Linked DNA regions of Homo sapiens: region 2 is linked to region 1. The links come from fine-mapping of genetic effects on gene expression. A gene starts in region 1. The other region holds a variant in brackets. All regions are shown on one strand. Distances are from middle to middle. Region 1 holds the start of SNHG26 (small nucleolar RNA host gene 26). Region 2 has its middle 24 kb from the start of HYCC1.

The links. PIP is the estimated chance that this variant, and not a neighbour inherited with it, causes the effect.
Region 2: its variant is the best candidate, but not a certain one, in a credible set for the expression of SNHG26 in whole blood (INTERVAL, PIP 0.50).

What each region holds. Positions count from the first base shown.
Region 1 is chr7:22,851,976-22,857,208 of GRCh38, forward strand. It overlaps SNHG26 (small nucleolar RNA host gene 26), which reads left to right and starts at 2,265. Exons shown (of 5, transcript NR_146320.1): 1 at 2,265-2,305; 2 at 4,547-4,581; 3 at 4,998-5,041. It overlaps SNORD93 (small nucleolar RNA, C/D box 93), which reads left to right and starts at 4,638; the gene lies at 4,638-4,711. RefSeq lists a silencer at 2,080-2,539 and enhancers at 2,637-3,248, 3,040-3,269.
Region 2 is chr7:23,035,556-23,040,788 of GRCh38, forward strand. No RefSeq gene overlaps it. Among named protein-coding and RNA genes, the nearest start is that of HYCC1, 24 kb to the left of the region's middle. The variant C/T (reference allele first, on the strand shown) is at 2,037.

The DNA.
Region 1 (5,233 bases):
GGGAATACAGGAATAAATTCACACTCAAGGTGACCCAAGGAAGCTACCGCCTGGGATAAAACCCCACTACTGCCCCATTATCAGCCTTGAAGAGTTTTATGGTATGAATATTGAACTGCTTTGGGGGAATAATCTCTTCCTCTGATAAGGATATTTAGATAAGGAGTTTTTCCCCTTATCTAAATATATTCTAGGCGTTTACACTGAATTCGGGGGATTCAGTAGAGAAGGAAACAGAGTTCTCATGGAGCCTACATTGCACCATCATGGCAACTCTGCATGACAACACCCTAAGACCAGCTCCACCCACCAGAGAATAATCCTAGATGACCTATTAAAGTCCCCTGCACTCTATTATCCTATGATTTTTCTGTAACTCTCTTGGCCTCTTTGCTTCTTTCCTCTCCTAAATTTCATGCAGCATATGAGTTTCCTGCTGGTCATGCTACACTCATTGTACTAATAGGTACCTCTTCCTTCTGGAAGCCTTTCCTGTAGCCTTAGCAGGCTGGGCTTTGTGGCTTTATGCTGTGCCCTTGGCACTCTTCATGGGCTTCTATCAGTGGGTGAATCTCATTTTATATTCCTCACTTTAGTGCAGGGGCAGTTTCTCATTGAACTTCACACCCTCCAACACCAATCACAGCACCTGGCATAGAATAGGCACTCAATAAGTATTTGCTGCACTGAGCAATCTGTAGGGGCCAACATGGAAAGTTTTCCCTTTGCCCTCTTAAGGTTCACTAAAAAATCAACTTGCAAAAGGCAGATTAATTGGAGAAAAAGCATATAAATGTATTTAATGTGTATACCCGGGATCCTTCAAATGAAGACCCAAAGATACAGGGGAAATTATCCATTTTTATGCCTAGGTTCAACAAAGTATGGGCAGTGACGTAGAAATGTGATCGGACAAAAAGTGTATGATCTAAGACTAATAGAGGGAGAAAACCCAGCAAGGCCTGTCTGTCTGGATTCTTCTTGGCCTCTCTGAGCATGCACTCTTTCCTTCTGGGTATGGGACAGGACTCCCTCTGGAATGGGGGTCTTATGACCTACAGTCAAACAAGGGAAGTCAAATAATGTCTTTATGGCCAGATTTTACACAGAACGGCAGAGGGAAAGTCCCCACAGTCCTTGTATTAATTCCCTAGGGATGCCTTAACAAAGCACTCGGTGACTTAACAGAAATGTTTTGTCTCACATTTCTTGTGACTAGAAGTCCAAAATCAAAGTGTCAGCAGAACCAAACACCAAGCTCCCTCTGAAATCTGCAGGGGAGGGTCCTTCCTTGCCTCTTCCTAGCCTTTCTCCGGTGGTGGCCGGCAATCCACCGCATTCCTGGGCTTACAGCTGCATCACTCTGATCTGCCCCTGTCCCGCCACATTTTCGTGTGTCTCTGTCTTCAAGTGGCATTTTGACACCGTGTGATAAGGACATCAGTCATGTTGAATTAGGAGGGTCCACCCCAATGATCTCGTCTTGACCACATCTGTAAAGACGCAGTTTTTCCAAGTTAGGTCGCATTCACAGGTGCTGGAGGTTAGGTCTTCAATGTCTTTGGGAGTGGGGACAAATTCAGTCCTTAACACTCATGTTCTATATGTAGTGCTGCTTAGGCATCCAGCCAACAGACCTGCTTATTTTACTGCAGTCAGAATACCTTCTCCCCTTCCTCCTCACAGTCCAATGACACAGACGTGCTTTGGGGGCAAGATATTTGCGGGCCGTGGCCATCATTCTAAGCATGCAGCACTCCAGGCACCAGGAGTCCTCCCCGTGCTTCAACCCCTCTTCGATGAGTTTGCACCCCCGACCTCCGCTAATGTTCACATCCTTTAACGGGAGCCAGTCTTCTGCTACGTAATTAGACGAGTCTTGAAAGAAGCACCCAGGGGCGTGGCTGAAGACTTTAAGAAACACCAGGCAAGGGAGGGGAGTGGGTACCAGAGACACCTAACATTATTTGAGTGGCAGGAGCTTCCTCTGACCTTCAACGAGGTAAAGAGACATCACAGCCAGCGAGAGTTTGGGGCAGACTCCCCAGACTCGGAGGCCGGGGCAAAGTGGGAGCCGGGGCCAAGTGGGAGCCGGGGCCGTGTGGGGTGGGGGGGGGGGCCCAAGGCGGGGAAGGCCCGGGCCGCCGACAGGGGGCGCGCGAGGGCCTCCGGGCCCCGCGGGCGGGGCGGGTGCTGGACCCGGAGGGGCCTTCCGGCAACTTTTTGGTTGGTGCCGCCCCGCCCAGGCCCCTTTTAAACTTGATCTCCGCAGTGCCCTCCCTTTTCGGCCGCGGCGCGTGACTGGGTAAGTGGGCTCGGACCTTCTGGACGCAGGAGCCGACCACGTGGCTCCGGGGCTACCCCGTGCGCTTCCTAGGCGCGCCTCTCGCTGCCCCCACGCCGAGGCCTCGGCTCGGCGCCGCGGGGAAGCCTCCGTTAGGGCCCCTCGGGGGTGGGGGCGTCCTCGTGGCGCTTGGGCCCTTCGTCCCGGGTTAGGACGGCCCGTGTCCTTGTGCGCTTGAAGGGGCCGCCCCCTTTCCTCGAGGATCCCACCCCCACTCAGCAGAAGCCGCCAGGCGCCCGTCACCTCCCGTGCCTGAGTCCCTGCCGTCCACGCATTCGGCCTACAGGCAGCTTTTAGTCCTTTTTCAATTAAATGATTGCATTTTGAGGATCAAATTCCAACCGCAGGCGGAGGCGCCGAGCCCCGGACGGTCTCTGGGTTCTTGGTGCACTCGGGGCTCCTGCCTGCCCAGGGGCTGTGACCGCGCGGACGGAAGCCTATTTGGGAAGCGAGTGAGATCTGATGTCTGAAGCGCTTTAAGTTTCTAAGCGGGGCAGTATAATAGCGGGGTTAGCAAACACACGGAGGTCATTTCACTCGCGCAGCCATCCCCCACCGCCACCAGTGCCGTTCATTTGCTACTGGCCCGCAGTCAGATAATTTAAAGGCTTGGAGGGACGAGTCTTGCTGGAGCCGACGCCTACAGTAAGTTGAGCGGAGTGCTGTGAGCCCTAATAAGGGAGCCTGCTTTCCTCCCGAAGATTCGCTTTTTTGGGAGTGGCCAGAGCGTTATTACAGCACAGGGCCCGCTTCCAACGTTTAATCAGGGTGTGAGGAGGCCCTTCGTGGTTTTCTGACCTGGGAAAAGTCTGAACTACTGGGTTCTTTCTGGCTTGGACCAGGACAAGGTGTTGAACGCCTAACTTAGGTCTACTAAGGTGTAGAAATACGCAAGGCTGCCCCTAGAGAACGTTTGTCTGGGGAATAATGTAAGTTTTTGGAGCGGCTCTCCTGAGCATCGCTGAGCATACTAATTGTTCATTACTGGTACAAAATGCTATATAAAGGGATACTTTGCGAATTTAGTAAAATTGATAAAGATCTAAATTTACATTTGAGTCAACAAATAATCTTTGTGGCTAGCATAGGTACCACAGTTCTGTTGGAATGTGAAGCTCGTGGTTCACCTGTTTTCCTCAGTTGTGAAAGATTTGCTGCCTTTTTGATGAAACCAAATGGGACCCATTTTACCATTCTTTAATGAGGAAAGCTTGTACATTTGCAGCCTAGGTTCTAGGCATCTTTTATCCAGCGTTATAGATAGACCCAGAGCATGGACAATTTTCCCTCCCTGGAATACCTCCAGCTCTGGCGAATAGCCCTATATACAGCACAGGAAGATAGCGGTGGTAAGGCTTTGTTTTACCATTGCTTTAGGTGTTAGAGATTCTTATTGAGCCCATTTTATTTTTATTTTATTTTATTTATTTTTTTGAGTCGGAGACTCGCTCTGTCACCCAGGCTGTGGTGCAACGGCGCAATCTCGGCTCACTGCAACCTCTGCCTCCCGGGTTCAAGAAATTCTCCTGCCTCAGCCTCCTGAGTAGCTGGGATTACAGGTGCCCGCCACCATGCCCAACTGTTTGTATTTTTTAGTAGAGACGGGGTGTCACCTTGTTGGCCAGGCTGGTCTTGAACTCCTGAGCTGGTGATTCGCCAGCCTCAGCCTCCCAAAGTGCTGGGATTACAGGCGTGAGTCAGCGCACCCGGCCTGCCAAATTGTTTTTTAACTATTCAGTTTAAACTGTGAGAGACACCATGTCAAGGAAGCAGTGTGAGCTAGCGTCTAAGGATTGTGAAAACTGAGCAAGTGCCCAGAACTAGAAACTTCCCAGCCCCCTGAACTCAGCCTCAGGGTAAGCGAGTTTAATAGTGCTTCCTTTGATTTTCAAATCTGTGGAAGGTTTGTTTCAGTTTTTCCCAGACAAATATTGTTGGGATAGTGTTTCTTTTCAAAAATGGATAGGATTCAATGCTCATCAGTGGGAAGATAGTGACTCCTGACCATTTTCCTCCTAGCTGGAAACTACAGAAGACTCCCAAGTATCAGGAAATTTGGAGAATTTGTACAGGAATTATATTCAGAGATAGCAATTTATTTACTCATCAAAGAGAGCTATTGGATAGCCACCATAAAGACCACTCATTAAAAAACAAAATTGCATGATATTCTTAACATTGTCTTTCACTTTTTTTAACCAGGCTTGGTGGAGTTTCAAGATGCTGATGAACTTAAGGTATGGGCCGAGTGGAAAGAATTTGGTTTAAGTTATTAATAGTTGAATTGAAATTGTGGCCAAGGATGAGAACTCTAATCTGATTTTATGTGCTTCTGCTGTGATGGATTAAAGGATTTACCTGAGGCCAAATTGGTATGCAGGAATTTATTAAATGGAATCATACCCCCCCCCCTTTTAAAATTACGCTTTTGGTAAAAGGGAAAAAGCTCTTGGTAAATGGATAATACTACTAAGCCAAGAGAAAGACAGGATTTTGAGTGAAAACATAAATTTAGATGTCACAACATTACTAAAGCAACAGTGTGTAAGATACTGGACGATTTTATTTACTTACTTGCACAGTTTTTGTAAACAGTCTAGACAGTACTGTATTTTGCTATTTAGTAATACCTACTGTGATACTTCTTTTACAGGTCTGGCGCTTGAAAGAATCAGTGAAGCTTTTCAAGTAGAGGAGGTATATTTGAATATGTAACCTTTAGTATCTACAGAATAGAGGTTGCTTTTTTTTTTTTTTTTTTGTCCCTTTCACAGTGGTAGCAAGGTTGAATTTTGAGATGGCCCCAATCATCTATAGGAATATTATTTGACAGTTTTGGAGACACAAAACTGCCTTATAGCTGACTTGATCCTGTAGAACATTTCTGTG
Region 2 (5,233 bases), 180 kb after region 1:
ACCGTTTGACCCAGCCATCCCATTACTGGGTATATAGCCAAAGGATTATAAATCATGCTGCTATAAAGACACATACACATGTATGTTTATTGCAGCACTATTCACAATAGCAAAGACTTGGAACCACCCCAAATGTCCATCAATGATAGACTGGTTTAAGAAAATGTGGCACGGAAATAGAGCCAAGATGGCTGAATAGGAACAGCTCCGGTCTACAGCTCCCAGCGTGAGCGACGCAGAAGACGGGTGATTTCTGCATTTCCATCTGAGGTACCGGGTTCATCTCACTAGGGAGTGCCAGACAGTGGGCGCAGGCCAGTGGGTGCGCGCACCGGGCGTGAGCCAAAGCAGGGCGAGGCATTGCCTCACCTGGGAAGCGCAAGGGGTCAGGGAGTTCCCTTTCCGAGTCAAAGAAAGGGGTGACGGACGCACCTGGAAAATCGGGTCACTCCCACCCGAATATTGCGCTTTTCAGACTGGCTTAAAAAACGGCGCACCACGAGACTATATCCCACACCTGGCTCGGAGGGTCCTACGCCCCCGGAATCTCGCTGATTGCTAGCACAGCAGTCTGAGATCAAACTGCAAGGCGGCAGCGAGGCTGGGGGAGGGGCGCCCGCCATTGCCCAGGCTTGCTTAGGTAAACAAAGCAGCCGGGAAGCTCGAACTGGGTGGAGCCCACCACAGCTCAAGGAGGCCTGCCTGCCTCTGTAGGCTCCACCTCTGGGGGCAGGGCACAGACAGACAAAAAGGCAGCAGTAACCTCTGCAGACTTAAATGTCCCTGTCTGACAGCTTTGAAGAGAGCAGTGGTTCTCCTAGCACGCAGCTGGAGATCTGAGAATGGGCAGACTGCCTCCTCAAGTGGGTCCCTGACCCCTGACCCCCGAGCAGCCTAACTGGGAGGCACCCCCCAGCAGGGGCACACTGACACCTCACACGGCAGGGTATTCCAACAGACCTGCAGGTGAGGGTCCTGTCTGTTAGAAGGAAAACTAACAAACAGAAAGGACATCCACACCGAAAACCCATCTGTACATCACCATCATCAAAGACCAAAAGTAGATAAAACCACAAAGATGGGGAAAAAACAGAACAGAAAAACTGGAAACTCTAAAACGCAGAGCGCCCCTCCTCCTCCAAAGGAACGCAGTTCCTCACCAGCAACGGAACAAAGCTGGATGGAGAATGACTTTGACGAGCTGAGAGAAGAAGGCTTCAGACGATCAAATTACTCTGAGCTACGGGAGGACATTCAAACCAAAGGCAAAGAAGTTGAAAACTTTGAAAAAAATTTAGAAGAATGTATAACTAGAATAACCAATACAGAGAAGTGCTTAAAGGAGCTGATGGAGCTGAAAACCAAGGCTCGAGAACTACGTGAAGAATGCAGAAGCCTCAGGAGCCGATGTGATCAACTGGAAGAAAGGGTATCAGCAATGGAAGATGAAATGAATGAAATGAAGCAAGAAGGGAAGGTTAGAGAAAAAAGAATAAAAAGAAATGAGCAAAGCCTCCAAGAAATATGGGACTATGTGAAGAGACCAAATCTACGTCTGATTGGTGTACCTGAAAGTGATGCGGAGAATGGAACCAAGTTGGAAAACACTCTACAGGATATTATCCAGGAGAACTTCCCCAATCTAGCAAGGCAGGCCAACGTTCAGATTCAGGAAATACAGAGAACGCCACAAAGATACTCCTCGAGAAGAGCAACTCCAAGACACATAATTGTCAGATTCACCAAAGTTGAAATGAAGGAAAAAATGTTAAGGGCAGCCAGAGAGAAAGGTCGGGTTACCCTCAAAGGGAAGCCCATCAGACTAACAGCGGATCTCTCGGCAGAAACCCTACAAGCCAGAAGAGAGTGGGGGCCAATATTCAACATTCTTAAAGAAAAGAATTTTCAACCCAGAGTTTCATATCCAGCCAAACTAAGCTTCATAAGTGAAGGAGAAATAAAATACTTTACAGACAAGCAAATGCCGAGAGATTTTGTCACCACTAGGCCTGCCCTAAAAGAGCTCCTGAAGGAAG[C/T]GCTAAACATGGAAAGGAACAACCGGTACCAGCCGCTGCAAAATCATGCCAAAATGTAAAGACCATCGAGACTAGGAAGAAACTGCATCAACTAACGAGCAAAATCATCAGCTAACATCATCATGACAGGATCAAATTCACACATAACAATATTAACTTTAAATGTAAATGGACTAAATGCTCCAATTAAAAGACACAGACTGGCAAGTTGGATAAAGACTCAAGACCCATCAGTGTGCTGTATTCAGGAAACCCATCTCACATGCAGAGACACACATAGGCTCAAAATAAAAGGATGGAGGAAGATCTACCAAGCAAATGGAAAACAAAAAAAGGCAGGGGTTGCAATCCTAGTCTCTGATAAAACAGACTTTAAACCAACAAAGATCAAAAGAGACAAAGAAGGCCATTACATAATGGTAAAGGGATCAATTCAACAAGAGGAGCTAACTATCCTAAATATATATGCACCCAATACAGGAGCACCCAGATTCATAAAGCAAGTCCTGAGTGACCTACAAAGAGACTTAGACTCCCACACATTAATAATGGGAGACTTTAACACCCCACTGTCAACATTAGACAGATCAACGAGACAGAAAGTCAACAAGGATACCCAGGAATTGAACTCAGCTCTGTACCAAGAAGACCTAATAGACATCTACAGAACTCTCCACCCCAAATCAACAGAATATACATTCTTTTCAGCACCACACCACACCTATTCCAAAATTGACCACATAGTTGGAAGTAAAGCTCTCCTCAGCAAATGTAAAAGAACAGAAATTATAACAAACTATCTCTCAGACCACAGTGCAATCAAACTAGAACTCAGGATTAAGAATCTCACTCAAAGCCGCTCAACTACATGGAAACTGAACAACCTGCTCCTGAATGACTACTGGGTACATAACGAAATGAAGGCAGAAATAAAGATGTTCTTTGAAACCAACGAGAACAAAGACACAACATACCAGAATCTCTGGGACGCATTCAAAGCAGTGTGTAGAGGGAAATTTATAGCACTGAATGCCCACAAGAGAAAGCAGGAAAGATCTAAAATTGACACCCTCACATCACAATTAAAAGAACTAGAAAAGCAAGAGCAAACACATTCAAAAGCTAGCAGAAGGCAAGAAATAACTAAAATCAGAGCAGAATTGAAGGAAATAGAGACACAAAAAACCCTTCAAAAAATCAATGAATCCAGGAGCTGGTTTTTTGAAAGGATCAACAAAATTGATAGACCGCTAGCAAGACTAATAAAGAAAAAAAGAGAGAAGAATCAAATAGACACAATAAAAAATGATAAAGGGGATATCACCACTGATCCCACAGAAATACAAACTACCATCAGAGAATACTACAAACACCTCTACGCAAATAAACTAGAAAATCTAGAAGAAATGGATACATTCCTCGACACATACACTCTCCCAAGACTAAATCAGGAAGAAGTTGAATCTCTGAATAGACCAATAACAGGAGCTGAAATTGGGGCAATAATCAATAGTTTACCAACCAAAAAGAGTCCAGGACCAGATGGATTCACAGCCGAATTCTACCAGAGGTACAAGGAGGAACTGGTACCATTCCTTCTGAAACTATTCCAATCAATAGAAAAAGAGGGAATCCTCCGTAACTCATTTTATGAGGCCAGCATCATTCTGATACCAAAGCCGGGCAGAGACACAACCAAAACAGAGAATTTTAGACCAATATCCTTGATGAACATTGATGCAAAAATCCTCAATAAAATACTGGCAAACCGAATCCAGCAGCACATCAAAAAGCTTATCCACCATGATCAAGTGGGCTTCATCCCTGGGATGCAAGGCTGGTTCAATATACGCAAATCAATAAATGTAATCCAGCATATAAACAGAGCCAAAGACAAAAACCACATGATTATCTCAATAGATGCAGAAAAAGCCTTTGACAAAATTCAACAACCCTTCATGCTAAAAACTCTCAATAAATTAGGTATTGATGGGACGTATTTCAAAATAATAAGAACTATCTATGACAAACCCACAGCCAATATCATACTGAATGGGCAAAAACTGGAAGCATTCCCTTTGAAAACTGGCACAAGACAGGGATGCCCTCTCTCACCACTCCTATTCAACATAGTGTTGGAAGTTATGGCCAGGGCAATCAGGCAGGAGAAGGAAATAAAGGGTATTCAATTAGGAAAAGAGGAAGTCAAATTGTCCCTGTTTGCAGACGACATGATTGTTTATCTAGAAAACCCCATCGTCTCATGTGGGGAAAAGCAAGAGAGATCAGATTGTTACTGTGTCTGTGTAGAAAGAAGTAGACATAGGAGACTCCATTTTGTTATGTACTAAGAAAAATTCTTCTGCCTTGAGATTCTGTTAATCTATAACCTTACCCCCAACCCCGTGCTCTCTGAAACATGTGCTGTGTCAACTCAGAGTTAAATGGATTAAGGGCGGTGCAAGATGTGCTTTGTTAAACAGATGCTTGAAGGCAGCATGCTCCTTAAGAGTCATCACCACTCCCTAATCTCAAGTACCCAGGGACACAAAAACTGCGGAAGGCCGCAGGGACCTCTGCCTAGGAAAGCCAGGTATTGTCCAAGGTTTCTCCCCATGTGATAGTCTGAAATATGGCCTCGTGGGAAGGGAAAGACCTGACCGTCCCCCAGCCCGACACCCGTAAAGGGTCTGTGCTGAGGAGGATTAGTAAAAGAGGAAGGAATGCCTCTTGCAGTTGAGACAAGAGGAAGGCATCTGTCTCCTGCCTGTCCCTGGGCAATGGAATGTCTCGGTATAAAACCCGATTGTATGCTCCATCTACTGAGATAGGGAAAAACCGCCTTAGGGCTGGAGGTGGGACCTGCGGGCAGCAATACTGCTTTGTAAAGCATTGAGATGTTTATGTGTATGCATATCTAAAAGCACAGCACTTAATCCTTTACATTGTCTATGATGCAAAGACCTTTGTTCACGTGTTTGTCTGCTGACCCTCTCCCCACAATTGTCTTGTGACCCTGACACATCCCCCTCTTCGAGAAACACCCACAGATGATCAATAAATACTAAGGGAACTCAGAGGCTGGCGGGATCCTCCATATGCTGAATGCTGGTTCCCCGGGTCCCCTTATTTCTTTCTCTATACTTTGTCTCTGTGTCTTTTTCTTTTCCAAATCTCTCGTCCCACCTTATGAGAAA